Regions from separate parts of the Homo sapiens genome. Here all the other regions are linked to region 2. Evidence: fine-mapped expression QTL. A gene starts in region 2. Each other region holds a variant in brackets. All regions are shown on one strand. Distances are from middle to middle.

The links. PIP is the estimated chance that this variant, and not a neighbour inherited with it, causes the effect. A credible set is the group of variants that fine-mapping cannot tell apart.
Region 1: its variant is the best candidate, but not a certain one, in a credible set for the expression of PEX1 in hypothalamus (GTEx, PIP 0.84).
Region 3: its variant is the best candidate, but not a certain one, in a credible set for the expression of PEX1 in whole blood (INTERVAL, PIP 0.69).
Region 4: its variant is the best candidate, but not a certain one, in a credible set for the expression of PEX1 in whole blood (INTERVAL, PIP 0.67).

The regions. Positions count from the first base shown.
Region 1 is chr7:92,429,292-92,435,661 of GRCh38, forward strand. It overlaps the pseudogene TMBIM7P. Among named protein-coding and RNA genes, the nearest start is that of GATAD1, 15 kb to the right of the region's middle. The variant A/G (reference allele first, on the strand shown) is at 2,171.
Region 2 is chr7:92,525,452-92,530,451 of GRCh38, forward strand. It overlaps PEX1 (peroxisomal biogenesis factor 1), which reads right to left and starts at 3,069. Exons shown (of 24, transcript NM_000466.3): 1 at 2,856-3,069. The coding sequence starts at 2,984. It overlaps RBM48 (RNA binding motif protein 48), which reads left to right and starts at 3,344. Exons shown (of 5, transcript NM_032120.4): 1 at 3,344-3,473; 2 at 4,025-4,215. The coding sequence starts at 3,363. RefSeq lists enhancers at 2,488-2,667, 3,268-3,647 and a silencer at 2,898-3,127.
Region 3 is chr7:92,565,984-92,574,109 of GRCh38, forward strand. It overlaps FAM133B (family with sequence similarity 133 member B), which reads right to left. Exons shown (of 11, transcript NM_152789.4): 9 at 3,840-3,932; 10 at 31-78. Among named protein-coding and RNA genes, the nearest start is that of FAM133B, 20 kb to the right of the region's middle. The variant T/C (reference allele first, on the strand shown) is at 4,251.
Region 4 is chr7:92,603,880-92,612,005 of GRCh38, forward strand. It overlaps CDK6 (cyclin dependent kinase 6), which reads right to left. Exons shown (of 8, transcript NM_001145306.2): 8 at 1,042-8,126. Among named protein-coding and RNA genes, the nearest start is that of FAM133B, 18 kb to the left of the region's middle. The variant C/T (reference allele first, on the strand shown) is at 3,142.

The DNA.
Region 1 (6,370 bases), 95 kb before region 2:
AAATTAAATTAAGCTGATTCAATAAAAATTAATGTGAACAACCTAACACTTAATTCTACATCAGTCATAAAGACTTACCAGAAAATAAACACACTGGTAATTACCACAGTGAGCAACAACTGAACTGACAGGAGGAAGAACACTTTGATAATGAAAGCTGAGGAGACAGAAACACTATTTTTATGACACAATAGTCAAAAGTAACAACATAAATGTAATGACGTATTTTTGATATTTAATGAAAGGAATTTTTTTTTTTTTGCTCTTTTTTCAGGATGGGAAAGGCAGTGCTAGTTTACAGTCAGCAAATAGAATAACAACAAAAATGCAGCTCTATAGAACTTTTAGAGCACACTCAATCCAGATGGTTGGATAGAGGTGTTTTATTGGGGATCTGATGGTTTATTCATGGGAGCTCCAGAATTTTCTCTTTTTTCTTTTTTTTCTTTCTTTCTTTTTTTTTTTTTTTTTTTTGGAACAGAGTCTCACCGTGTTGCCCAGACTGAGTGGAGTGACGACACAATTTCAGCTCACTGCAACCTCTACCTCCTGGGTTCAAGCGATTCTCATGCCTCAGCCTCCTGAATAGCTAAGATTACCACCACTCCTAGCTAATTTTTTTTTTTTTTAAGTAAAGATGGGGTTTCACCATGTTGCCCAGGCTGGTCTCAAACTCCTGATCTCAGGTGATCCACCTGCCTCAGCCTCCCAAAATGCTGGGATTGTAGGCATGAGCCACCATGCCTGGCCAAAGCCCAGAATTTTCAAGACAAACTCAGGAATTTAATTCCTTGTCATGCACATCCCATCCTCCTTAGGATCAAACATGATTTGAAATCCTCACCATGTCACAGGCCCATCATTAGGGATCCAGCGACACTACCTCCCTGCATCGGAGAGCAGCAGCACCTCAGGACTGTGGGAGACGGGGGGGCGTCTCCCTGGAGATGGACTTGGGCTGCAGAGGGTTTGTAGAGCTTTTCTGCCACTTTTCTCTCCAGCCTACCCGCCTGTAGAAACTCTCTTCTCTTCTGCATTCTGATGCAGAAATAGATAACTTGGCGAACTGTACATGAGACCAAAGAGTTCCAAGAGAATGACAGGCCAACATACAAGGCACAGCACGTGGGCACCTCTTTCTGCTTATGTCCTGGGCCCTCTGAATATGGCACTGGCAATGGCAATTTGCCTTTTGTGTGGCTTTATCCCAATTTCAAAGAAAAAAAAGAAGTAATGCTGCTTAAAATTAACTTACAGGATCGTCGACTGTCCTTTTGCTGGGAAGTTTCTATGCATAGGGAAGTATGACTACAAAGCAGTGGGTCTAAACTGTCTTAATAAAAATACCAGAACATATATTACCAAGTGTATGCTGCCTACATTAAAATATTCATTTAGCTCACATTAATTTGGCATCTGCTATGTAGCAGGGACTGTGGGGGAACAAATATTAAATGTGGCCCAGGCTCACAAGAACAGACACAGAGATCAATGGAATCAAAGTGACAGTCCAGAAACAAACCTTTATATTTACGGTCAATTGATTTTTAACAAATGTGCCAGGAAAATTCAATGAAGAAAGAATAATCGTTTTGACAAATGGTGCTGGGAAGACTGGATATACACCTACAAAAGGATGAATTTGGATCCCCAACTAACACCAACTGCAAGCCATAACATGCAGTCATAATGGCCATAGCAGCCTCAGCTACCATCTCATTGTAAGTGAATGAGAGCTCCCAATTCAAGAGCAGCACAAGAGTTGACCAACTGAGTCAACCCACAGAATTATGAGAGATAATAAAATGGTTGCTGCTTTCTTTAAGTGGGCAAAGGATTTGAATAGACATTCCTCCAAAGAAGACATATGAATGACCAATAAGTATAAGAGAAAATTCGCTAATGAAATGCAAGTCAAAAGTACAATGAGATAACACTTCACGAACACTAGAATGGCTATAACCAAAAAGACAGACAATAACAAGTGTTGACAAGGATGCAGAGAAACAGGAGCCCTCATACATTGCTGCTTGGAATGTAAAATGGTGCAGCCACTTTGGAAAAGTTTGGCAGTTCATCAAAATGTGAAACACAGAGTTACCCTATGGTTCAGCAATTCCTGGGTATCTACCCAAGAGAAATGAAAACATATGTCTACACAAAAACTTCA[A/G]TATGAATGTTGATTGCAGCATTATTCAAAATAACCTAAAGGTAGAAACAATCTAATTGTCTGTCAACTGATAAATGTATAAACAAATGTTTTCTATTCAGGCAATGGAATTGTATACGGCTCATTCATAAAAGGAATGAAATACTGACACGTGCTACAACATGGGAGAACCTCAAAAACATTAAGTGAAAGAAGGAAATCACAAAAGACCACATGTTGTATGATTCCATTTACATGAAATGTTCAAAATAGATTCATAGAGAGGTCTGAAAGTAGATTAGTAGTTGGCAGGGGTTTGGGGGAGGGATGATGGGAGTAACTGCCAATGGGTATGGGTTTCTTTTCTTTTTTTTTTTTTCCTTTAGTAAAGATGGTGTTTCACCATGCTGCCCAGGTTGGTTTTGAACTCCTGACCTCAAGTGATCTGCCTGCCTCGAACTCCCAAAGTTCTGGGATTACAGGCATGAGCCACTGCGCCTAGTCTGGGTATGGGTTTCTGTTTGAGGTGACGAAAATGTTCGAAAATTGATCATGTTGATGGTTATCAACTCTAAATACACAAAATACCAGTGAATTGTACACTGAAAAGGGATTTTTATGATTTGCAAATTATATCTCCATAATACTGCTTTAAAAAATTACAGCCCCCATAACTCAATCCATTACCCTGCTATACTTTTCCTTTTCTCCACAACACTTTCATATTTTCATATACTATATTTTTTTTAATTGGACAAAGGCCAGCCTCTGCCCTCCAGGAGAGGCAGATATAAACAACTGACTCTTACACTGGCAAGGAGGCTCTACATATTTTTCAATTAGACCTGAAAGACTAATTCGATTAGACTCCTTAAGCCTCATTTTCTCACCTGTAAAATGGCAATACAACTTCTGTATTTGTAGGGTTGTTGTAAGGACGAAACGCAATAGCATTGCCCTTGCACAACACCCTGTGTAGGCCTGATATTGATCTCAGAGACAGCCAGGTGCTTAGTGATATCCAATATCCCTGGCTTCCTCACTATTTGACCCAGATCTTGTTAAGGGTGGCAATGGGCTCAGCTGAACAACTCCAAATAGAGGTGGCCATGTGATACAGGTGGGTCAATGACATGGCATTCAAAACTCTGGGTGTGGTTTCTAGAAATGCCTCTGAAAAGAAGACTGGTTTGGTCAACTCTCAGGATACCTGCAGCCCTCTCTTGGCTCTACTTTGCCTTTGGCTGTTTGCCTTTTCCTTCTCCTACCTCAAAGGCTAGAGCTTCAAAAGGCAGCTTTCCAGCCACAGGAAAGGAGTGGTGAGGGCCACAGGGAGACCAATAGGATTCAAAGCTCACAGTCCACCTGCAAGTTGTTCAGGCCCTCAGAAGGCCTCAGGGTGGCAGAGTGGACACTTTAAAACTTAAGCCAATATTGTGGTATCACCTTGTATACAAGTAAAAACATTTTATGATCCATGATTAATTCATATTTCCTTAAAAAAAAAAGTTATTCACCATACGTTTCTTATGAGTTTCTGAATGCCCTGGACAACTTGGAAGCAGTCAGTTATAGCAGTCCTACATCATATTTTATGAGAAAGCATGACTCAGAAAAACTAAAAAAAAAATTATATCTGACAATCTTCTCTGTGGAAACATTTTAAGAGAACATATGCTCTTCTCTTCTAAAAAGGTAATTTCTTTATTCTCACCTCTGCGGACAGATGCGTCTGAGAAAGGATTGCCTAAAGTTGCATTGTTATCACCTGGGGTGACGTCATCTGAAATTTCTATCACACAGGTATTCAACTGCTCGGTGTCCTTTGGCCGTGGCTTCTTCCGAGTTTCTTGTGGCCCAGCTGAAGATGAAGGTGTGTAGCGCTCACCAGATTGGGACTGGATGCTTTTATCTGCTGCTTCCTGAATCAGATGTTGATGACCTCCAGAACCAAAGTCTATTGGTTCGCTGACCTCCAAGTCCAATTTCCTAGAGGGGAAGAATTGTTTTTCATGTCCTTATGATTACACCTCTACAACCTTAGCATCCTCAGAATCATCAGGCGATTTCTTCTTAATTGTAACTGGCTTGGCTCAGTACTTACCAAGTTGGTGCTTAGTAAATATTTGTTAAATGAATGATAACATTTAAGATGAAACCCATAGAGTAAAATAATTTGATTGTATTATGAAATTAATTTTTTAATAGAATTTATTCAGCAAAAACTTAATGAGTGCCAAGCATGAAGCTGCCCTTGCTGTCTCTGCCCTCAAAGAGCTTATATTTTGGAAGAGAGTATAATCAAGCAATCATATAAAAGGCAACATAGGTCGGGTGCGGTGGCTCTTGCCTGTAATCCCAACACTTTGGGAGGCCGAGGCGGGCGGATCGCCTGAGGTTGGGAATTCAAGACCAGCCGGGCCAACATGGTGAAACTCCGTCTCTACTAAAAATACAAAAATCAGCCAGGCATGGTGGCAGGCTCCTGTAATCCCAGCTACTAGGGAAGCTGAGGCAGGAGAATCACTTGAACCTTGGAGGCAGAGCTTGCAGTGAGCCAAGATCGTGCCACTGCACTCCAGCCTGGGAAACAGAGCGAGACTCCATCTCAAAAAAAAAAAAAAAAAAAAAAGGCAATATAAGCAGACCAGGAACATTGGAGGAAGTCCTGAGACCCCTGAAGGAAATCTGGAGGAACTTGCAGGGAGTAGAAGAGGTTGTCAAAAGCTTCCAGAGAAACTGAAAGTTAGGCCATGGCTGGAAGCGAGTAGGGATTAGTCAAGTGAAGAGGTGGGGAGAGGTTTTCCAGACAAGGAACCAGCCTGGACCAGGACTGGAGAAGGCAGGGAGGGCAAGTTCCAGAAACGTACCTGGAGCAGGGAGTTTGAAGGGGAGAGTGGAATGAGGTTACACAGAGAAGTAGTGGGCATGCCTCTGAGAGGCTGGCAAGCCAAGTTAAGGACTCTGGACTTCATCCTGAAGGCCATGGGTGTGATTGGCAGAATGGCAGTTCCCCAGTGATGTCCACGTCCTAGTTTTTGGAACCTGTGTCTATGTTATCTTGCATGTCAAAAGGAACATTGCAGGTGTAATTAAGTTAAGGACTTTGGGATGGGGAGATTATCCTAGATTATCTGGGTTGGCCCAATCAAATCACAAAGATTATTATGATTATAGGTATAACAAGGTGGCAGGAGGAACAGAGTCAGAGAAGGAGATGTGACAACAGAAGTAGAGGTCAGAGTGATACAATTGTTGTCTTTGAAGATGGAAGAAGGGGGCCATGAGCCAAGGAACGCAGGTGGCCTCTAGAAGTTGGAAAAGGCAAAGAAATGGCTTTTCCTCTACAGCCTCCAGGAAGGAACCAGCCCTGCCAGAACCTGGATTTTAGCCTAGTGAGATTGGTTTTAGGCTTATGACCTCCAGAACTGTAAGATAATAAATGTGTGTTGTTTTAAGTCATTCAGTTTGTGGCAATTTGCAACAGCAGCAACAGGAAACTAATACAATGGGGAATCAAGGAAGGTTTCCCAGCAGGGACCCATGGAGATCTCCTAGAAAGAAAGGTTACTCTAGGTAGTGTGGAGAATGGGCCAGACTAAGCCAAACTGAGGCAGAGACCAGAAATCCAGATATGAGATGGCAGTGGCTTTGCCACAGTGCCTTCCAGTCTGAACACAGTTCTTAAGAAACTACTACTAGGCCGGGCACGGTAGCTTATGCCTGTAATCCCCGCATGGGCAACAAGAGCAAAACTCTGTCTCAAAAAAACACAACTGCTTGGCAGATTTGGGGTACAGGAGCACTTTAGATACCATTACAAATATTAAATGCAAAAAAGATTTTTTTTTTGAGACAGTCTCCCTCTGTCGCCCAGGCTGGAGTGCAGTGGTGCAATCTCGGTTCACTGCAAGCTCCACCTCCCGGGTTCATGCCATTCTCCTGCCTCAGCCTTCCGAGTAGCTGGGACTACAGGCGCCCACCACCACGCCCAGCTAACTTTTTCTTTTGGTATTTTTAGTAGAGACAGGGTTTCACCGTGTTAGCCAAGATAGTCTCGATCTCCTGATCTCGTGATCCTCCCTCCTTGGCCTCCCAAAGTGCAGGGATTACAGATGTGAGCCACCGCACCCGGCCAAAATGCTAAATTTTAAGTGTAATATTTGTGATATTTACTATACTGTAAGAAGAACTTTAACAAAGAAAAGATGGGCAACCCAG
Region 2 (5,000 bases):
TCCCCCTGCTGCAATCACATCAAGTTCTGAGTACAGAGAAGATAACTTAGTTGAAGCGGTGGTTCTCAACCAGAGGTGATTTTGTCCTTCAGTAGACATCTGACAATGTCTGAAGACCTTTTTGGTTGTCACAGATAGGGGGAGGCAGTACAGGCGTCTACTGGATAGAGGCCAAGGGTGCTGTTAAACATCTTAAAATGTACAGGAGAGCCCCCAAAACAAAAAATTATCCAGCTCAAAATGTCAACAGTGCCAAGGTTGAGAAATCCTGACTTAAAGCATCTACTGGGTAGTCAGTCCTGAAATAATGACTTGAGTAAACAAGAGAATACAATACTTGAAACACAGTACAGAGTATATCAAATGTGATGTGTCACATAACACAACAGAGAAGTATTGAAAGGGAGACAAATGTGGGCAACAGAGAATTGGAAAGCTATGTGGAGGAGGTAGGATTATTCCTTTTTAAAGACATGGAATTTGTATGGAAGGAAGAAAAATGACTGAGGGAAGAATGGCATGAGTAAGAGAACAGAAGTGGGAAGGAGATTGGTTATAGAAGAAACAGTGAGAACGGTAGGTTGGGTGATGCAGAGTGAGCTATAGACAAGAGGGCAAATTAGCTGCATGGCAATGGTACTGGCCTAGGAATGCCAGTTTCCTTACATGTAAAAGTACAGAAACGACCTAGATGCTTAAGGTCTCTATCGTCATTAAAATTCTATGATTCTAGGACAGTAGGTCTCAACTCTTTTGTGCATCCAAGTAGCCTGAATAAATTTTTTAAAATTAGAGATGCCTAAAGCCTATTCCCTAAGATTTTAGGTCTGATTTAATAGGTCTGAGGGTTGATCAGAACATCTGTATTCTTAAAAGCTTCAAGGTAAGTCTGACATAGGCCAGAAAACCATTGTTCCAACCCTTCTTCCCATTACTGCATGATCTGTATTATGCACTCAATGCTTCACCCCAAATAAAGTAATTCAAGTATTAACTCCCAACTTGTGAATCTTTCTGCTTTCATAATTATCTATGGCCTCTAACCCAAGAATTCTGGGAATCTATCCTAGACAACCAGAAATAAAATGATGTTTTCTAAACAAAGATGTGTTATTTTCAACGTCTGATTAAAATATAGTTTATCACTTCTAATGCCTAAAAATTAAGTACAATCTAAATGGTCAATCATAGTAAACAATTAAATAAATTATGGCAAATTTGTGCTAGAATACTAATTAACAACTTAAAATGATGACCTTTTAACAAAATAAAACACTCATAATAACATTAAATAAAAACACCAGGACACAAAACTGTACGTGTGTATACAGGACCTCATTTATGTTAAAAATAAAGATTAGAAACAAAACTGGAAGATTTGATCCAAACTGTCAACATTAGTCACCTCTAAGTTCTGGGATTATGGGTAACTTATTTTCTTGTTAATAATTTTCCATGCTTTCCAAATTTTCTATAAAACATAAATTCTATAAATTTATATAATTCATCGAGGAATAAATGTATAGATTTATGGAATCTATAAAGTAATAAACTTATTACATTGATAATTAGAAAGTAAAGTTGACCTATTCTGCTAATATGGGCTGAACAGAAACAGCAATTTGTTCCAGGGCTAAAGACATTTACATTTCAAAAAGATATGCATGAATTAATTCTTATAAGTACTTCCCGAAGGCTCAAAATTTAAAACAAAGATCAAGACCACTAAATTCTTAAACAGTGATGAATGTAAGGTAACAACTACATCTTAGGATCAAATTAGAGTTACTGTAAGAAAGCATTCCTACTATTAAGTGCAGATTTGAAAACATGTTGAAAAATCCCATCGAAGCTGACAGAGCACTGAACCAACTTCTACCTGGAACTTGGTGACAGTGACTGATTTGTCTCTAGCCATAAAGCCCATCAAAAACCAAAAGATTGTCTACTTAGTGGTAAAAAATAATAACGACGATGATAGGAGGATTCTGCTGAACTCATGTTTTCAGTGGACCAAAAATATCTTCCCCTAGGTATGGGGAAGTAACTCAAGTGGAAAGAAGGGATGCTTGAAATTATTGCAAACTCTATTCATTGCATAGATTAGCCACTGGTGGGTACCATGCATCCAGGATTTATGAGGATTTCAAATACGCCGTCCTTTTGCCCCCATAAGTACACTCAAACTCGTGAGACCATGTGCCTCTATTTTTAATTATGAAAATATGGACGCTGTATCTCCACCAGTGGTTAGAACTGTGAAACATCCTAACCACAACGTCCAGAAGGGCGACTGATCGCAGAGCTTCAAGTGATCTTAACTACGTTATGTGTTCCTAACACACTACAGCTGTGTTCCGCGTCAGCGACGCAGGGCAGAACCATCATTGTATTAACCTTTCCCGCTCATGGGACGCGGTGCTTAGTCCCCGGGAACCGACAGGGGCTCCGCCAACAACTCTGCGTCCCGCTCTCGCGGCCCGGACGGCAGCAGCGCAGGTTAACTGGAAATGGCTGGCAAGGAAAACACCTTTTAAAATAATAAAAACAAACCACTTCTCAGGAGCTTTTCCAGCCTGGAATAAGGAATATTTATAAAAACAGTGGTAGAATATTAGGACGTTTCTAGGTTCAGTTTCACCAAGTGAAAAGACCTGGGATAAGACGAGCCCAGGGCTGCACTGGACTTGTGGGATCCAGAGACTACCCAGAAGGGCCCTGCCGTCGAGGGACCCTGATCTCTGCGCGCTTCGGCGGCGCCCGGGTGGCAGCCGGTGTCCCGCCGCGTCCCTGAGAGGCTTCGGCCTCGTCCGACCCCAGGCTGAAGATCAGGTGGCTCGGGGCCGGCAGGTTACCTGCAGCAGATGCAGCTGGGCCACGAGACGCCGCGGCAGGTGGAGGAAGCAGTCGCGAGCGTTGGTGAAGGCCACAGTCACTGCCGCCCCGCCTCCCCCAGCACCCGCCAGGCGATCGCTGCCCCACATCGTCCCGGAGCGTCGCTCTGGGTTCGCCCACCCTAGCGCCGCAAAGGACCCGGGACCCGGCAGGCCGAGGACGTCGGAGCCGGAGGAGATCGATCGGCCCCGCCCCCTGCGGCCCCGCCCCCTCTCCCCGCTGCGCATCCTGCCGTAAGCCTGTAGTGGGTGGGACAAGAAAGCTTCTGTCACCCACCGCGCCTCTCCGCCGAGCCGCTCGGGGGCGGCACCTCGTTCATCAAATCTTCGCACGCAGGAAACGATGGCCGACGCTGTCGATTCTCCAGCCAATCCTGGCACTCCTTAACTCATCCCGCTCTCTTATTGGATAAAAGGGAGCTCAGTAGGGCGGATGTTGTCCTCCCTGCGAGGATCAAAGTAGGCAAGATGGCGTCGAGCGGCGGGGAGCTAGGGAGTTTATTTGATCACCACGTCCAGAGGGCGGTATGCGACACACGGGCCAAATATCGAGAGGGACGACGGCCTCGTGCTGTGAAGGTAAAGTGATTTTGGTTTCATTCGCTCTCCTCGGTAGCTTTATGTGAGTGCTAGCGCCATATGACCAGCCTACGGAAATAAAGGCACGACAAGGCTTCCGTCAGATCTGTCTCTCGTTAGAGCTGGCGTGAAGAACCCTCGGTCAGTTACCAAAGATTCTCACGACGCCTTTGGTCAAGTATTAGAACATCAACTCCACGAGAATAGGCCTTGGTTTTAGTCATTGGATCTTCTGTGTTTACAGTACTACTTGGCACAGGTAAGCACTCAGTGAATATTCGTTGAGTGATTGTTCCCAGTGACTTCTACCGACTCAATTTCTGGAAAAAAATGTCGACTGAAGGTAGTCTGTTATATGCCTTAGGTAGCCTCTCACATGGACTGTTATTCTTTATGCAGAAGGAATGGCAGAAATTTCATTTTGTGTTCTTTTGCTGACTGGGTTGAACAGATTATTTCTTGTTTTCAAAGTTCTCTTTAAAAAAAAATAGAGGCAGATTCGTCCTAGGCTTATTTGCGAAATACGTTTAATAACTCTGCATTTCTTTCAGGTATATACAATCAATTTGGAATCTCAGTACTTATTAATACAAGGAGTTCCTGCTGTGGGAGTCATGAAGGAATTAGTTGAGCGATTCGCTTTATATGGTGCAATTGAACAGTACAATGCTCTAGATGAATACCCAGCAGAAGACTTTACTGAAGTTTATCTTATTAAATTTATGAACTTACAAAGTGCAAGGTAATGTGCAAGTTAAGAAATGACTCATTTCCTCATTTCTTCCATTCATATTTCTGTCATTTTGGCCCCAAGTTTCCCTCATTCATAACTGAATTACCCCAAAACGTAATCTAGCATATCTTCCTCCAGCCTTTTTAAAAGTTAACTTTACTGAAACACTGTATCCATCACATCATTCCCATGCTTAACAATTTAATGTCCTGTAGCTTGGTAGAGTAGAAGTTGGGTTTGGCCAGGCACGGTGGCTCACGCCTGCAATCCCAGCACTCTGGGAGACCGAGGTGGGCGGATCACGAGGTCAGGAGTTTGAGACCAGCCTGGCCAACATGGTGAAACCCCCCTCTCTACTAAAAATACAAAATTAGCTGGGTCTAGTGGCGCAGGCCTGTAATCCCAGCTACTCGGGAGGCTGAGGCAGGAGAATCGCTTGAAACCGGGAGGCAGAGGTTGCAGTGAGCCGAGATTGCGCCATTGCACTCCAGACAGGGCAACAAGAGGGAAGCTCTGCCTCAAAAAAAAAAAAAAAAAAAAAATTTGGGTTTGAAGCCTGGGCGTGGTGACTCACGCCTGTAATCCCAGCACTTTGGGAGACCGAGGCAGGCAGATCACTTGAGGTCAGGGGTTCAAGACAAGCCTGGCCAACATGATGGAAACCCCTCCTCTACTAAAAATACAAAAATTAGCCGGGTGTGGTGGTGCGGACCTGTAGTCCCAGCTACTCAGGTGGCTGAGGCATGGGAATTGCTTGAACCTGGGAGGTGGAGATTGCAGTGAGCAGAGATCAT
Region 3 (8,126 bases), 42 kb after region 2:
TTGTCTGTAAAAACGTTAAGAGATACTTGCTGTTGCTTTTTCTCGTTCTTCACTGCTTTTCTTCTTTTTTGCTCGCACCTAGAAAGTTTAAATTTTTGTGGAGAACAGAAGACAAACATGTAATTTGTACTCAAGGCATTTTTCTTTCATTCTCTATCTTGCATCTTCAAAATTTAAATGTAAAAAACATTTTGACAATCACAGGACATTTAAAATAACTCCTGTTATATCTCAATGAGGTTTCAATAAAAAACATAAAGGAAGGACAATTAAGACGTAAAATCTCTAGACAGCTTCTCTTATATTCCCTTTCAGCACCTAAAAAAATGTGGTACAGTGGAAAAAAACATCAGCTTTAGGCCGAGTGTGGTTGCTCTTGCCTGTAATCTCAGCATTTTGGGAGGCCAAGGCAGGAGGCTTGCTTGAGCCCAGGAGTTCAAGGCCAGCCTGAGCAACATAGTGAGAGCTCCCCCATCTCTACCAAGAAAAAAAAAAAAGAAAAAGAAAAAATAGCTGGGCACAGTGGCATGTGCCTGTAGTCCCAGCTAACTGGAAGGTTGAGATGGGAGGATCACTTGAGCCCAGGAGGTTGAGGCTGCAGTGAGCCCTGTTTGCACCACTGCACTCCAGCCTGGGCGACAGACTGACACCTTGTCTCAAAACAGGCAAACAAAACATCAGCTCTGAAATGAGATAGATTCCAAGGTCTGAATCCTATCTTACTCTCAACATCTGTAAAATGTAGATAATATCCACCCTCAAGGGGAAGTGCCTAAAATACAGCAGGTATTTCTCTCACTCTATGGTGCTCAACAAATGGTAGCTCTATATTCAGTGTAGTTAGTATAAAGCCAATAGGTTAAAATTCTAAGTAAGAATTATCATCCCATTTATATTTTATTTCAATCTTTTTGAGTGTGGTACACTGGATTTAAATTAAACTGAGGCCGGGGGCAGCGGCTGGTGCCTGTGATCCCAGCGCTTTGATAGGCCAAGGTGGGAGAATTGCTTGAGGCCAGGAGTTCAAGACCAGCCTGGGTAACCTAGTTAAGACTTCACCTCTACAAAAAAATTTTTGTTAAAAATTAGTGGGGTGTGGTGGCATGTGACTGTAGTCCTAGCTACTTGGAAGGGTGAAGTGGAAAATCACTTGAGCCCAGGAGTTCCAGGCTGCAGTGATCTATGACTGCACCATTGCCCTCCAGCCTGGGCGATAGAGCAAGAACCTGCCTCTAAAAAAATAAGAATAAATAAGCTGAAAGTTGTCAAAGCTTTCATAAACTTTCGTATTACATGTTAAGTCCAAATGTGAGATATTTCATATTAAACTTGCTACCATGTAGCAGACAAACATAATACAACACTAATACATTACATACAAAACAATATTTATAAATTTGCCTAATGTTGAATTGCGTGGTTTTGCTGCTAAGTGACTACGACATTAAATACATGACAAATACATAAAAATGCAATTAACAATAAAAGGAAGCATGAGGACTAAAAAAAATATAACACATTAAGCACTAGAGATCACAAGCTCACAACAGAGATCACTAACTCACTAGCTCTCTTTACCGAGCACCTAGGAAACAATATTTTTATTGTTATTCTTGTTATTACAATGACTAAGGGTGACAGCAGATGTACTACATCTATATTTAGCCAGGCAGAGATGAGGGATGCTGTCACGCCATGTCCTGAACAGCCCTGTACATCCTCCACGACTTTTGAATAGCCTGCTAAACATTCATGTGATGAATCTGTTTACAATACAGAAACTAAAATTTTTTTTTTTTTGACAAAGTCTCGCTCTGTTGCCCAGGATGGAGTGCAGTGGTGTGATCTCGGCTCACTGCAGCCTCTGCCTTTCCGGTTCAAGCGATTCTCCTGCCTCAGCCTCCTGAGTAGCTGGGATTGCGGGTCTGTGCCACCATGTCTGGCTAATTTTTGTATTTTTAGTAGAGACAGGGTTTTGCCATGCTGGCCAGGCTGGTCTTTAACTCCCGACCTCAGGTGATCCATCTGCCTTGGCCTCCCAAAGTGCTGGGATACAGGCGTGAACCACCACACCTGGCCCAGAAACTAAATTTTAAAAAATAAAATTTTTTTATTTTTTTAAAGAGATAGGGTTTCGCTATGTTGCCCAAGCTGGTCGTAACTCCTGGTCTGAACTGATTCTCCTGCCATAGCCTCCCAAATTGCTGAGATTACAGGTGCCACAAGAGGCTGAGCCACTGCACCAAGCCTCTTGTGCAGGATTTTAAGATATACTGTAATGCCACTGTATGGTTTTTGAAGGGCGTATGTAATATACACCTGCTACAGCCTGCATTTTGTTTTTTCTTAAGATTCTATGTCTTCTGGTGTTACAGCATTGACTGATTGATTGAGATGGAGTTTCACTCTTGTTGCCCAGGCTGGAGTGTGATGGCACAATCTTGGCTCACTGCAACCTCCGCCTCCCGGGTTCAAGTGATTCTCCTGCCTCAGCCTCCCGAGTAGCTGGGATTACAGGCACCTGCCACCACGCCTGGCTAATTTTTTTTTTTTTTTTTTTTTTTAGCAGAGATGGAGTTTCACCATGTTGGCCAGGCTGGTCTGGAACTCCTGATCTCAGGTGATCCACCCGCCTCAGCCTCCCAAAGTGCTGGGATTATAAGCACGAGCCACTGCGCCTGGCCTGGTGTTAATCACATTCAGGCATTTACACTGAAATACAATTTCATAAAATTGCACATTATCATTATTATTTTTTTAGAGATGGGGTCTTGCTATGTCACCTGGGCTAGAGTGCAGTGGCTATTCACAGGTGGGATCAGAGTGCACTGCAGCCTCAAACTCCAGGGCTCAAGCAACCTTCTTGCCTCAGCATTAGCTTTCATTTCAGGAGCAATTACAAGACATTGCTATAAAATGGGGGCAATAGGTCTTAAAGGACCAAGTGCCACTGTTGCAGACCAAGAACGATGAAATCAGAAAGGAGAGAGGCACAAACAAACAAAAATGCAAGACTCAGGGAATGGGGAGATGAGGAATATAGTAGACAGAGATAGAGCTGGGCAGGACTGATACAGGAGGAGGCTAATACGGAAACGATTAAAGAATCATGAAAACCAGCTCTTGTTGCAATCTGCTACCACCCCTTGTAAGCAAGGGTAAGATCCTCAACTCTTTTAGATTACACTATTGGGGGTTAAGTATGTTGATCGCTAAAGAAAGCTACAGTTTTAAAAATAAATGATTCTAGGGCAAACTTGGCTTAGATTTTACTGTAACACCAAGAATTATGCAAACTTTAGCCACCATTTACTCTGTCTCAGGTATGATGCAATGCCTTTCGTAATTTATCATCTCATTTAGTTCTCACAACGAAGTAATATGATATGTTTCCTGCCAACATTTCTTCTCCACTTCATCACCTTTCTACTCCCCGAAAAGTAGCTCAAAACACAGCTAAATATCAACTAAACTGAGATAGTATATGCAATGTTCTATTTTAACAATGTAAGAGAATGTTTGGTTTCAACATGCTGTATGTTACACAGCTTCTTTCATGTAACAAGAATGGTAGCACAATAAAAAGGAAATATTAGAAGACTAAAAATATCTCAGATTAGAAAGGTATGTGGAAATACAGTTAATTATAAAAAATAATAGATAATTATCTTCTGGAAAAAAGCAAAACTCATTCTGAAATGAAATAACTTTCATTTTGTTTTTTCATACTAGAAAGGTGAATAAATTAAATATGAAGTATTTCTTTTTCTAAGTCATATTTATTAAATCAATAACTAAGCATTTTAAAATAGAGAAAATGGATTTGATCATATACTTACCTCCTCAATATACTCTGATTCTGACAAGGACTCAGATGATAAAGGTTTATCTTCAGAATACATCTTTCTCTTTTTGCTGAGTCCTTTAATATCCTATGAAAAATAAATACATTTATCTTGACTCAGACATACTTTGTCACACACATTTTATGTTTCTAAGTTCTATTTAATTCTTCTAATTATTATAATTACCCATTTTTATTTTAGAATGTCTAAAAAGTGTAACATTTACCAGGATTTAAGTCTTTAATTCCACTAAAGCAATATTAAATATATTGAAAAGAAATAACTACATATCCATTTAGATGTAATATCCATCTTATTTTCTTAAATTATACAGAATAGACTTTATACAGTCATATGAAATATGCAGATAATGTAAGATTTGGTTCCTTTGTATTCTAATTCTTT[T/C]GTTTCTACCCAGGATTGGATTAGACAGGCCTAGTACTGCAGAAAAGAAAATAAATGGGTGATTATTTGCAGTGATCTAAAAGAATCTCTATGTAGTAATTCCTTTAGCGCAAAGTGTTAAATGTAAATATGTGTTTAAAAAAATCTTAACCTCTAAGTATTTTTAATGTTGAAAAAGTGAGTAACTCTGGAGAAGGAGAGGGGACTGAGATTGGGAGTAGTACTTAGGGGCTTAAATATATATTTGAAGAAATAAAAAAAAATTATGACAACACCCAAAGCAAGTGTAACAAAATGTTAAGATTTATTCGAGCTGCATAGTGGATATGCTGGTTATCATTTTATTATTTTTCATGGAACTGTTCTGTATATCTGAAGTAGTTCATAACAAAAACAAAACTACCCAATGGAAAAAATGTTCACCACCTAATCTTACATAAAAAATTCAGAATGTACAACTTTTTATATAGCGTGAGTCTAATTTTGAAGACAAACAAAAATGCAGAAAATAAACTAACAGTGATGATCTCTCTATGGGCTAGATTATAGCAGACTTCCTTTTGTTTCTGCAAACAGCATTGTTATTTTGGCCAAAATGTTAAATGTTAACTGTAAGAAAATGGACTCAAATCCCACTATCAGAAATTAAACACCATTAAGATTTTTGGAAACATCTTTCTAAGTGTATGTTTACAATATTACATAAATACCTGCTGTCTGGAACCTGCTCTTCTCACCCAATAGTATCTTTCCATGCCAACTACATCATTTATGGCTGCATTTAACATTCACTAAAATGCCAGAATTTACTTAACCCATCTCCTTCTGGAGGAAAGAAATATGGGTTCTTTGCTATTAAAAACAAAGTTGAAATAGAATGAAGTGTATGTGAGTGCAAACTCTTTAATAACGATGACTAAATCAAAGACCAACGTAGCCTTCACACAAATGATCATCTTTTTCTCCCACCATGTCCAAAACTGTCTGTCATCCATTTATGAATCACACTTTACCAAGAAGCCTCCCTCTCAGGCTCTTTATCAATCGTATCAGAGAATACAGTTTGTGTTTTCTTTTAGAATTGCCTAAACGTATATTTGCCAATTTGTCTGTGTATGTGTGGTATTCTTTTTTCCTTATTAAAGATCATTAGTTTTTTGTGTTATACATTCTTAGAAGTTTTTCTTAGTCTGTTCATTGTAGTTAAACTTTGTTCACAGTTTAATTTTTGTAATCAGTTTTTGCCATTCAGAATTTGAAATATATGGTCAAAAGTTTGAGTTTTGAGGCATAAGCCTTCCCCACCCCAGTACTGTAATAGTCACCCTTTCTCTAGTTGCATTTTCATACATTGAAATCTCTGAGCTGTCTGGGATGTATTTGGCTTTATGTAGTGGCCAGCTTTATATTTTCCAAATGATTAGTCATTTTGTTCCAAGAAATGCCATCTTTATCATATTATTACATTCCACAGATTCTCGAATTTTCACCTGGACTCTACACTGTTCCATTGTTTTGTCTATTCCTGTACTAGTACTGCACTGTGTTAATTAAAACATTCTTATAATGTTTTAATATCCAGTACGGCAAGTTATACCCAGGAACACGTTATGACTCTCCATTTATTCAATCTTCATATATGTCTCTGAATAGACTTGTATAGTTTTCTTCAAATAAGTACTGTTTACTTCTTTAAAATTTTCTTGCAGATTTTTTGGTTACTACTATAAAGAGGATATTTTCTACCACTGTATTTTCTAATTGAGTATTTTATTATCAGCACTTTCAGAATAATTTTAAATAATAAAGGGGCTAAAAACAATGATTATGTGACTTAAAATTAAAGCCTTTATATAATTATAATAGACACAAAAACAAAGTAAAGAGACGCCATGGACCAGAAAATGTTGTTTCTTTCCAACAGAAAAATGGGCAAAGACTATGAAAAGCAATGCAAAGAAAATGAAATATGAATGGCTAATAAGCAGGTTAAGAAGCTCAACCATTTGTATACATTAAATTTGCAATAATGACATCTCCCTGGGTTGACAAGTATGTGAAACAAGGGTATTTTTATACACTAGCAAGAATGCAAAATAACAAGCACTTGGGCAAGCAAAATGTTCGTAAGTTGAATGTGTATGCACATCCTAGAACTTAGAAATTACAGTCCAAAGTATCCTTTAGAAAATTAACAGTAAACTGGCTGGGCGCGGTGGCTCACACCTGTAATCCCAGCACTTTGGGAGGCTGAGGTGGGCGGATCACGTGGTCAAGAGTTCCAGAACAGCCTGACCAACATGGTGAAACCCTGTCTCTACTGAAAATACAAAAAAGTAGCTGGGCGTGGTGGCGCATGCCTGTAATCCCAGCTATTCAGGAGGCTGAGGCAGGAGAATTGCTTGAACCCGGGAAGTGGAGGTTGCAGTGAGCCAAGATTGCACCACTGCACTCCAGCCTGGGCAACAGAGCGAAACTCCATCTCGGAAAACAAAAAAACAAAAAACAGTAACTGTGGAAAAGAAGAAATGGGTAAGAAATATCCACAGCAGCACTATTTGTATTACTGAAAAATTAAAACAATCTAGATGTTCATAAAAAGGAGAACGGAGAAATAATTGTGGTGGATTAATTAGTAGAATACCATAAGCAAAAGAAACAAACTTGAAAGTATCAGTAAGGATAGATGTCAACAGTAATGCTGAATGAAAAGAAACAAGTTTCAGAAGGAAACACAATGTTACCATTTTGATAATACACAGTATTCTTCCCATTCCAGTAGGTATAACTAATTAAAAAAAAAAGAAACTCAATATTCTGTTATTTATGAACACATACTAATATAATAAAAGTATATAAATGTGGATAGGAAAGACATACACTAGTTTCAGGATCAGCTATATCAAAGGAAAAAATGATAGTTTGGGGACTTTTTTTTTTTTTTTTTTTTAGAGATGGGGGTCTTACTCTGTCATCCAAGCTGGAGTGCACTGGCATGATCATAACTCACTGTAACCTCCAATTTCTGGGCTTAAGTGATCCTCCCACTTCAGTCTCGGGAGAAACTAGGACTACCACACCTGGCTAATTTGTTTTCTTTGTGTAGAGATGGCCTCTCACTATGTTGCCCAGGCTGGTCTCGAACTCCTGGCCTTAAGTGATCCTCCTGCCTCAGCCTCCCAAAGTGTTCGGATTATAAGCATAAGCCATTGTGCCCAGTCTTTTTTCTTCTTTTTTTTTTTTAATACATAAAACAAGACTTGAAGCCAATGTAAATCATTTATTAATTCTAACTGGTAAATATATTAATATTTGTTGATTACATGTGTGTATATTACTCTGTATCTAATATTTTAAGTACTTAAAAATTGCAGTTCAGTTTTAATATTTCATGTTTCTATGTTACCAGATTTAATTTCACACATACTTTTTTTTTTTAAATATGAGGGTAACCACTTATTTTATAATCGTTCTGAAAATCAGGAATTAATGCTGAATTATATCACATCCTTCTGACAACTACTGAAATAATCATATGGTTTCTTTCCTTGATCAGTTAATATGGCAAATTATATTAAATTATCCTTGAATTCTTGGAATTGGTCATTACAGTTTCTTTTTTAAGTGTCTTTTTAAATTAAATTTTATTTTTTTTTAAATTTAGATGCAGGGTCTCACTCTCTCTCCCAGGATAAAGTGTAGTGGCATGACCTTGTGGGCTCAGTCTCCCAAGTAGCTAGGACTACAGGCATATGCCATCACGCCTGGTTAGTTTTTAAAATTAATTAAAAAAAATTTAAAATTAATTTTTATTTGCAAATTGTTATGTAAACCACTCCTAGGCATATACCCAAGAGAAATGAAAACATGCATCCA
Region 4 (8,126 bases), 80 kb after region 2:
CATGATTGTGCCACTGTACTCCAGCGTAGGTGACAGAGTGAGACCCTGTCTCAAAAAAAAAAAAAAAAAGTCAAAAAGTTAAAAAAATTAAAGTTTATAAACTAAAAAATTTACAGTAAGCCAAGGTTAATTTATTATTAAAGAAAAAATTTAAAATAAATTTAGTGTGACCTAAGTGTACAGTAAAGTCTACAGTAGTGTAATGTCCTAGGCCTTCACATTCACTCACCACTCACTGACTTATCCTGAGAAACTTCCAGTCCTGAAAGCTCCATTCAGTGTAAGTGCCCTTTGCAGGTGTACCATTTTTTATCTTTTATACCATATTTTGACTGTACCTTTTCTATGTTTAGATACACAAATACTTAACAATGTGTTACAATTGCCTACGGTATTCAATACTATACAGGTTTGTAGCCTAGGAGGCTTAGGCTACACCATCTAGTCTAGGTGTGTATTTGTGTAAGTACACTCTATGATGTTCTCACAACGATGAAATCCCCTAACAATGCATCTCTCAGACTGTATCTCAGTCATTAAGCAACGCATGATTGTTGAATGAGTTCTTTTTTTTTTTTGAGATGGAGTCTTGCTCTGTTGCTTAGGCAGGAGTGCAGTGGCGCCATCTTAGGTCACTGCAACCTCCACTTCCCAGGTTCAAGTGATTCTCCTGCCTCAGTCTCCTGAGTAGCTGGGATTACAGGCGCGTGCCACCATGCCCGGCTAGTTTTCATGTATTTTTAGTAGACACAGGGTTTCACCACGTTGGCCAGCCTGGTCTTGAACTCCTGACCTCTGGTGATCTGCCTGCCTCGGCCTCCCAAAGTACTGGGATTAAAGGCATGAGCCACCGTGCCCGGCCAATTGTTGAATGAGTTCTAAGCTCACTTAGCTGTTATTTACTTTTTAAACACTAGAAGCCTGAAAAGGAATCTCTTAAAGTAAAACTTTAAAACACATTCTTTCTACCACATGGCCAGGTTGCAAATAAGAAGCACCAAAAAAAAAAAAAAAAAAAAAAAAAGAAAGAAAAAAAACACATTCTGCTAAAACTTGGAATTTAATGAATTTTACTCACTACAGTTATACTCATTTTACATTAAAGTAAAAAAGAAAATAGCCAGGAGAGTAATTCATCTCCAGAAAGCAGTTTAAAGTTATTGTTTTTATTATTTTTATTTGCTACCAATATTTTTATTGTAAGAAATACAAAAGGTATTACAAATATACAAACTATTTGCTCTTTTTGCCTCATTCAATTTAGCTTTCACATAAGTGAACACATTGGACAGTGATATTTCAACACCAATTTTGAAAAAAACAATGAACTTCATCATCTGACAATAAATACCTACATTTTCATTCTAGCACCCAGTAAGACATCCAGTTTCCAAAGGATTATTGGTATGCAACCCTCTGAATTTTCTGACATGTTACCTTTGCCACTGCAACAGAAACACCACTGCAGTTCTCCCTTTCCCAATAAGTCAGAGTAAGGGGCAGGTAAGAATGGCTATCTGACTTCAGAAACCCTGGGTCACAAAGCATCCCTTACTTGAGCTACTTTTAAAACCAGATTTTTAATGATAGGGTACTTAAAGTTTTGGTGGTCCTTGAATGACATATTTTACGTTACATATTTACCCTACTTTTCTATTCTCCTCCTCAGATAGGAAGGGTATAGATAAACTGGCTATATTTTCATCTGCCTCTTGGGAAAGGAGCAAGAGCATTCAGCTCAGAGCATTCTGAAGACAGTAGCCTTAGAGATAAGCTTTCTTTCTTTCTTCTTCTTTTGCTTCAAGAGGGCTTTCTGTGTGTAATGGAGGGATGGTTGCTAGAGTGAGACAGCCCTTCCCCTCTTGCTATGTCTATACCATACCTGAGGCCATTTTTCTTAGAGGGCAAAAACGTTAGAATAGGTAGGAAGGTTCTTGCTTTCAGAGAGCTGTGCTGCACCCACAGGGTGGACCCGACAGGCCACTGTGGTAACTCTCAATCTGTGTACAGAGAAAAGAGAAGCAACATCTGATACAAAGTCACCTGCCAACATTCTTATAAGACTGTGTCCCAGGCAGTGAATTTCCACACTGCTTCTTGGGTCTGCAGAACTCAAAGCACCAAAACAGAGCATTCTGTAGCAATATAAGCAAACGGAATAAGAATAATTATGCACCTTTAAGGAACATGCACCCTTATAAGTCTGTACCCTGATATGAAAATAGCAGAATGAATTTCAAGTATGAAGAAATACAGTAAAAGTGTGGCCTGTAGATGGAGAGAAAACAGCAGCCTGGAATGTGGTTTATATTCTTGATTAGTTTTTCTCTTGGTACCACAGCCAAAACTGAATGCTCTGTACAATGACTTGGTTTAAAAATCAAGATGCATACAAAGATGCTAGAGGCATTTCTAATGGGTGCCATGAGCACAGTCTGTGCCCAGCATCAGGAACCATCTCTAGATGAATGTGGCTAGGTCAAGTTGGGAGTGGTGGCCAGGCCTAGACAGGCACACCTGTGGTCCATGATGTGGAGGAAGATGGAGAGCACCATGTGGACAAGCCAGGATGGTAGCAGGGAACACTTTAGTGGTAGAAAGGAAGAGATACAGGGGACAGAGATGTAGAGGTGTGGGGATGTTGGTCATCTTGGGCTGGTTCACACAGCCTAGATGAGTATCTGATATACACAATTTCTACATTTCTAGAACCATGATTTCAAACACAGAAACTAACAAGTCAAATTTCCAAATTAGATTTTTTTTTTTTACTTTCAAAACATTTTCTATTATAAGTCAGAAGGAAAAAAGCTTACTGTATGTGACAGTCTTCCTGAAACCTAAGAGAAAGTTTTAACCAGGCCCTATGGCAATGCAGAAACACTAATACATTTTACAGTGAAAACCTACTTTAACACATCTCAAAATGATAATCGTATAAAACTTTCTAGTTCTAATTTGCACTCTACGTGAACCAATATTTTTCTTTTCTTAACACATACTGCTCTTCTATACCAAACACTTGCCCTTTAACCTTCAGATAAAAACCTCAAATACCAAAAAATGCAACAAGCTTTTGAGGTGTTGGGAATTGTTGGTTGTTAAAATCCCTTTTATTTTATAATAAATTATACAGGCAAT[C/T]CTTGCTTTTTATTACCACACTGGATTGCTTCTGTACACAGCTAAGTTGCCTGAAGCATGGAAACTTGGACTTCTCCATCTGACACGTTCTGGAAGCCTCAAGGCACAAGCTGACAGTTCTGCTTCTACAGAAAAACTCTCACACTGCTCTCCTCTCAACAGTACTGCCTGTTCCCACTACTCCACATGACACCTACGAGGGCACTACATCACGTGAGGGAAGCTTCTTCATGAGGGCAGACAAGAGGAGGCACCACCCAGGCACTGGTCTCTGCCTGGCATCTATTCCGAGGGCCACCTGGCACAGTTTCTAAATTAAGGCATATCTAAAATGCTTTTCTACCTTTAGTTTTTATTTTTGCTATATTTTTGCACTCTACTATATGCATATTTAATAAAAACAACTACAAAGTCCTTTACTTTAATTCCTTTACATAATGATAAAACACCTAGATACCCAAAATACTACATCTATATATTCAAATCTACTAATCATGTTACAAATGCATGCAGCTTATTTGGGGGCTTAGTCTAATTTTTATTTTCTTAGGTCCATCAATACCATGATAATGAACATTAGATGCAAAATCCTAACACTTTCTGCCTTCAGTTGTACTTTCACAGGACTAGTGTGATTCAGAAATAAATAACATACATGAATAATAATAGAAATAATTTATGCAAATGTAGAACAACTTGAAAAAAAATCCCCCGCCTGTCAGGTGCTGTTCCTGGGGGTAGCTGATGCTATAAATTCCATGTACTAACTAATATATTTACTACAGGTAATAGGAAAACAAATGAATAAAAAGTGAGGAACTATGATATACATGTGTATATTTTTGCAAACACAGGATCAGAATGAAAAGATATATCATGCACTGTGAGGTTTAAGAAATGTATTACTGCTGGGATTTGTTTTATTATTCAGACTTTAAGATCAAACTGAGAGTTGTTGGTGATCACAGAAATATTGCTAGCTGATACATATTATTGCATTTCATAAAACTTAAGATTAGAAACTTTCAAGTAAGGGTACAACGGGTATCTTCAGAACTTTAACCTAAGCACATCAACGGAATTTTTCTAGGGACCACAGAGAGTTAGAAATTAAATAATTGTGTGGCTCTATGTGTGCTGATTAGTGCTACAGTCATAGTTCTTGGCAGTCAATATGTAGTTATATGCCCCCTTTGAGAAAAACCTACATTTGACAATCCAAACTCCTAAAATTGAGAAAGGGTTATTTGTGTGACCAAACAACTCACACGGAAGATTCCTCTCAACATGAAAATCCCCTGCTACATGAGATAATTTGTTTACATACCTTTAATTACCTAACAAAGAAAAAGAGAGAAAAGAAACTGGAAGCTAAAGAATTGAGAGCTTTTGCCAACTGAAGACGAAGCAGAAAATAAACTTTTCAAAACAAAACTTTTCCAGGCATATCTTTCACCATCACATATATAGAATGATGGAAAATAAAAAAATAAAAAAAAATTCCTGCAATTATACATCTTTTCTTTAAAAAAACAAAAACAAAAACAAAAACTGAGCTTAGCGCCTGAGAGATGCGGGGTAGACAGCTTCACACAGGGCAGCTGCTACCGCATCTCTTTTTACCCGAACTTTCGGAGAATTGTGTTGTACTTATTTATGCACAGAAGACACCCGTTTGCTACTAGGGACATTTTTCTTCCTAAGATTTGCAGAACAGATGCCTCTGAGACAGCAGCAGGGCACTCTGACCTCGGAAAGCAGCCCGCGGGGCCGCACATAATTTCAGGCACCGGCAGGTGAGTGGGAGGCGGGGCCCCAGCCCGGCCTCGCCCACTGCCTCTCTCCTGCCAAAGGGGCGGGGCAACGAGGCAGCGCGCCCGGAAGGCTTTCAAGTGGGAATCAAGTTTTGAGCACGAGCAAATGGGGTTCAGACTGGCCACTGTTATAACAAACCCTGGGGTGGAATTCGGCCTTTCGCATAGGGGCTTTAACTGGACTCTAGTTCCTGGGAGCAGAGGGGCGAATGAGGCGGGGGATTTCTCAGCCAGTTTCTGACTGCCCCTAGTGTATGTGGCATTTTGGTTCAGTATGAATTACTGAGACTCATCTGCTTGCCACTCAGGAGGAAAGTTGGGCAGGCACCGTCGAGTGTCTGCCACTCAAAAGGAATAAGCTGCTTTCTGTGGTGCTGTGCTAAGGAAACTGAAAAATACTGCAATATCCTTCCCTACTAAATTTCAAGTGACACTGCTGTGAGAAAGGTGACCTCTAAAATTAACTTAATCATTTGGGGTATAAGAAGTCTTTAAGTAGACTTGTAAATTTAAAAAAAGTATATAAAGTTGCCAAAAAACTTCAAAAGTTAAGTATGTAGACACACTCCTAAGTTGTTATGCTCATATACTTCAGACTTTTTTTTTTTAATTAGAGCTTCTTATGAATTTACATTTGTGATTCCACAAATGTTAAAATTACCTGGTCTTTTGGTATTTTAGGGCTCTGTTTCAATACAGCAATTTTTCAGACAAAAGTTTTGTCTACTGAATTACTGATGTGCTACTCATTTTGCTCACCTGATCTTTAAATTAGGATTTTAAAATTTAATCAATGTTGAAAGGCCACCATGCTAGGGAATTTGAAAGCAGCAGAGAGGGTATGTGTGTTTTAACTGGGGCCACTAAAGGAGTTTTATACTTCTAACGAAACTATCCTGTTCACAGATGAGGACTGCCTTTTTAGTAACTAAGCCTGTTTTAATCTAGAAAAGTAAGGTAACTGGGTACTTCAAAAATTTTTTCTTGACTGAATGAATGACTAGGCTTTCTTTACTTAAATGATCAAAATGGGTGTATTATCCATCCTTAAGAACAATTTATTTGCAGACAATTGTTCAGAACCTAGGTAACAAGTAAAATATTGAAGTTACAGAACATTATAGAGACTATTAATCATCCCAAAAAACAAGTGCTAGGAAAGAGTTAAATATGCGCAGAAAAATAAAGTTAGAATGAAATCTCTTTTAGAAGTACCTCTTTAGTCTTCATCAGATTTGTTTTTCTCTAAAAGTGCCACCTTGTGGAATATACCGGAATAAAACAAGAAAGCTCATCTCTTAGGACAGTGTGAATGTTTAGAAAGACTTTTGCAAGAAAAGTCACCTTCCTTTCCTACCACATCAACTTCAAATTGCTGTAACAGTATTTCAGCAGATGCTCGAAAAGAGCCTGTATTTATTTTCAGGTGGCTCTTGTTTTCTTCCTAAGGCTAGACAAGGTAACAATATGTTGAAGGAAGTCCACTTCTACTCATTTAGCTAAACGTTATCACTTCCTGGAAATGCTGAGAAATAGAAAACATTTTGAAAAGCTGATTGGCACTTCATTAAGAAAATAAAAATCCCCAGAAAGGCTACTTGAGAAAAAAACGTGTAAAAATTGGACCCCTTCTGTTTTTACATTTCTGTTGCTTACAAAGGTCAGAAGATAGAGAGACCAAAGGATTATTTTTGGTTTATTTTCTGAAAAAGTACAAGATAGAAATGCTTGAGATATAGGGATGTATTAAAATTGGGTTGTGAATTGCATTGATATAGAAAGGGAGTAAATAAGAAATGAAAATGCTAGTTTCTCATGCTTTTGAGGAAAACAGCATTTCTAATTACTCTAAGGACTTACATTTCTTGGCACACTTTGGTAGCCTCAATAAGTTTTTCCACTGTGGAGATGGAACATGTAAATATCTTCCTAATTATATACCCAAATATACTTAATGGACATGATAAATGGTTTTGGGTAAGGTTCACAATTTTTCAAAAGTATTGGTGGCATAGGAAACACATGCCTTTTAAAAATTTATTTTTTCAATGAACGTTCTTAGGCATGTGTAAGAAGTATTGCTTCATGTGGTTGCCTCTTCCCTTGAAATGGGAAAAAAGTACAGGTAATTTAGTTTGCTTGGGACAGCTTCTCCATAACATTTGTTTTCGACCATATTAATCCCACAGTTACCAGATGACCTTAGTATAAATTTTTACAATATATTTGTTCATAAAGAATATATCCTTCAAAATATATATAGCTTTGAAACTACCCTTTAAATACCTTCATTTTCTCCAGAATTTCCTTTATCTATTGCCCACTGTTTTATGAATAATTTTTAAAGCCTTAGAAATCATACATCTTTATCTGTCACAATGTGAAACATGCATTCTTTTGAATTATATAAATATCTAAGAGTTTATAATAACATTCCAATATTTTCTTTCCAGGGTAAATATTCTGTAGTTTCTATACTAACATAATTAAGTAATTATGGTGGCATATTCACTTTTAACATTATTTTTTCCTAGACTCAACTATGCAATTAAAGCCTGCTTTTGGAAAATGTAAGACACTCTCATGTGCTTATCATAAGAATAGTCAAATTGTCACTTAAAAGAAAAGCAATATTTTAGAAGAATTTTAATATGTTTATGATATTAGGAAGCTTACATAATTTAATTTCCACAATGGAACAATAATGGCCATTACTGACTTTAATAGGCACCACTTGTAAAAGAAGCAGCTACAGTTTCTTAAACACTCACTTTAAATACATAATTTAAAGTTCAAAATGTTTGGTACTATTTAAGAGTTTTCTCATCAAGATGGATAGTACATTCTGGAGAGTCAAACTATACATTTCTCTATAGAAAAGAAACATGCTTTATTTAAGATAGGAACATCTCATGCCTTCTAAAGCTTTCATTTTTATTTAACACAATGCTGAGATTCTATTCTTAGGTGAATAATTTTCAACTATTTTTAGTAAGTCACCTGGGGCTAAATGAAAAGTCTGCCATTCACAGTGTGTGCTTCCTGAGAGAAAATCATGAGAATACAGGGGGCTGAAATGGCCCCAAGCTTTCTTCCAAAACAGGTTCTTTGCACCTTGAGTTCCCATCCACTTCAAAGGAGGGACAAAGTGGGAGGCTCCAACCCACTGGG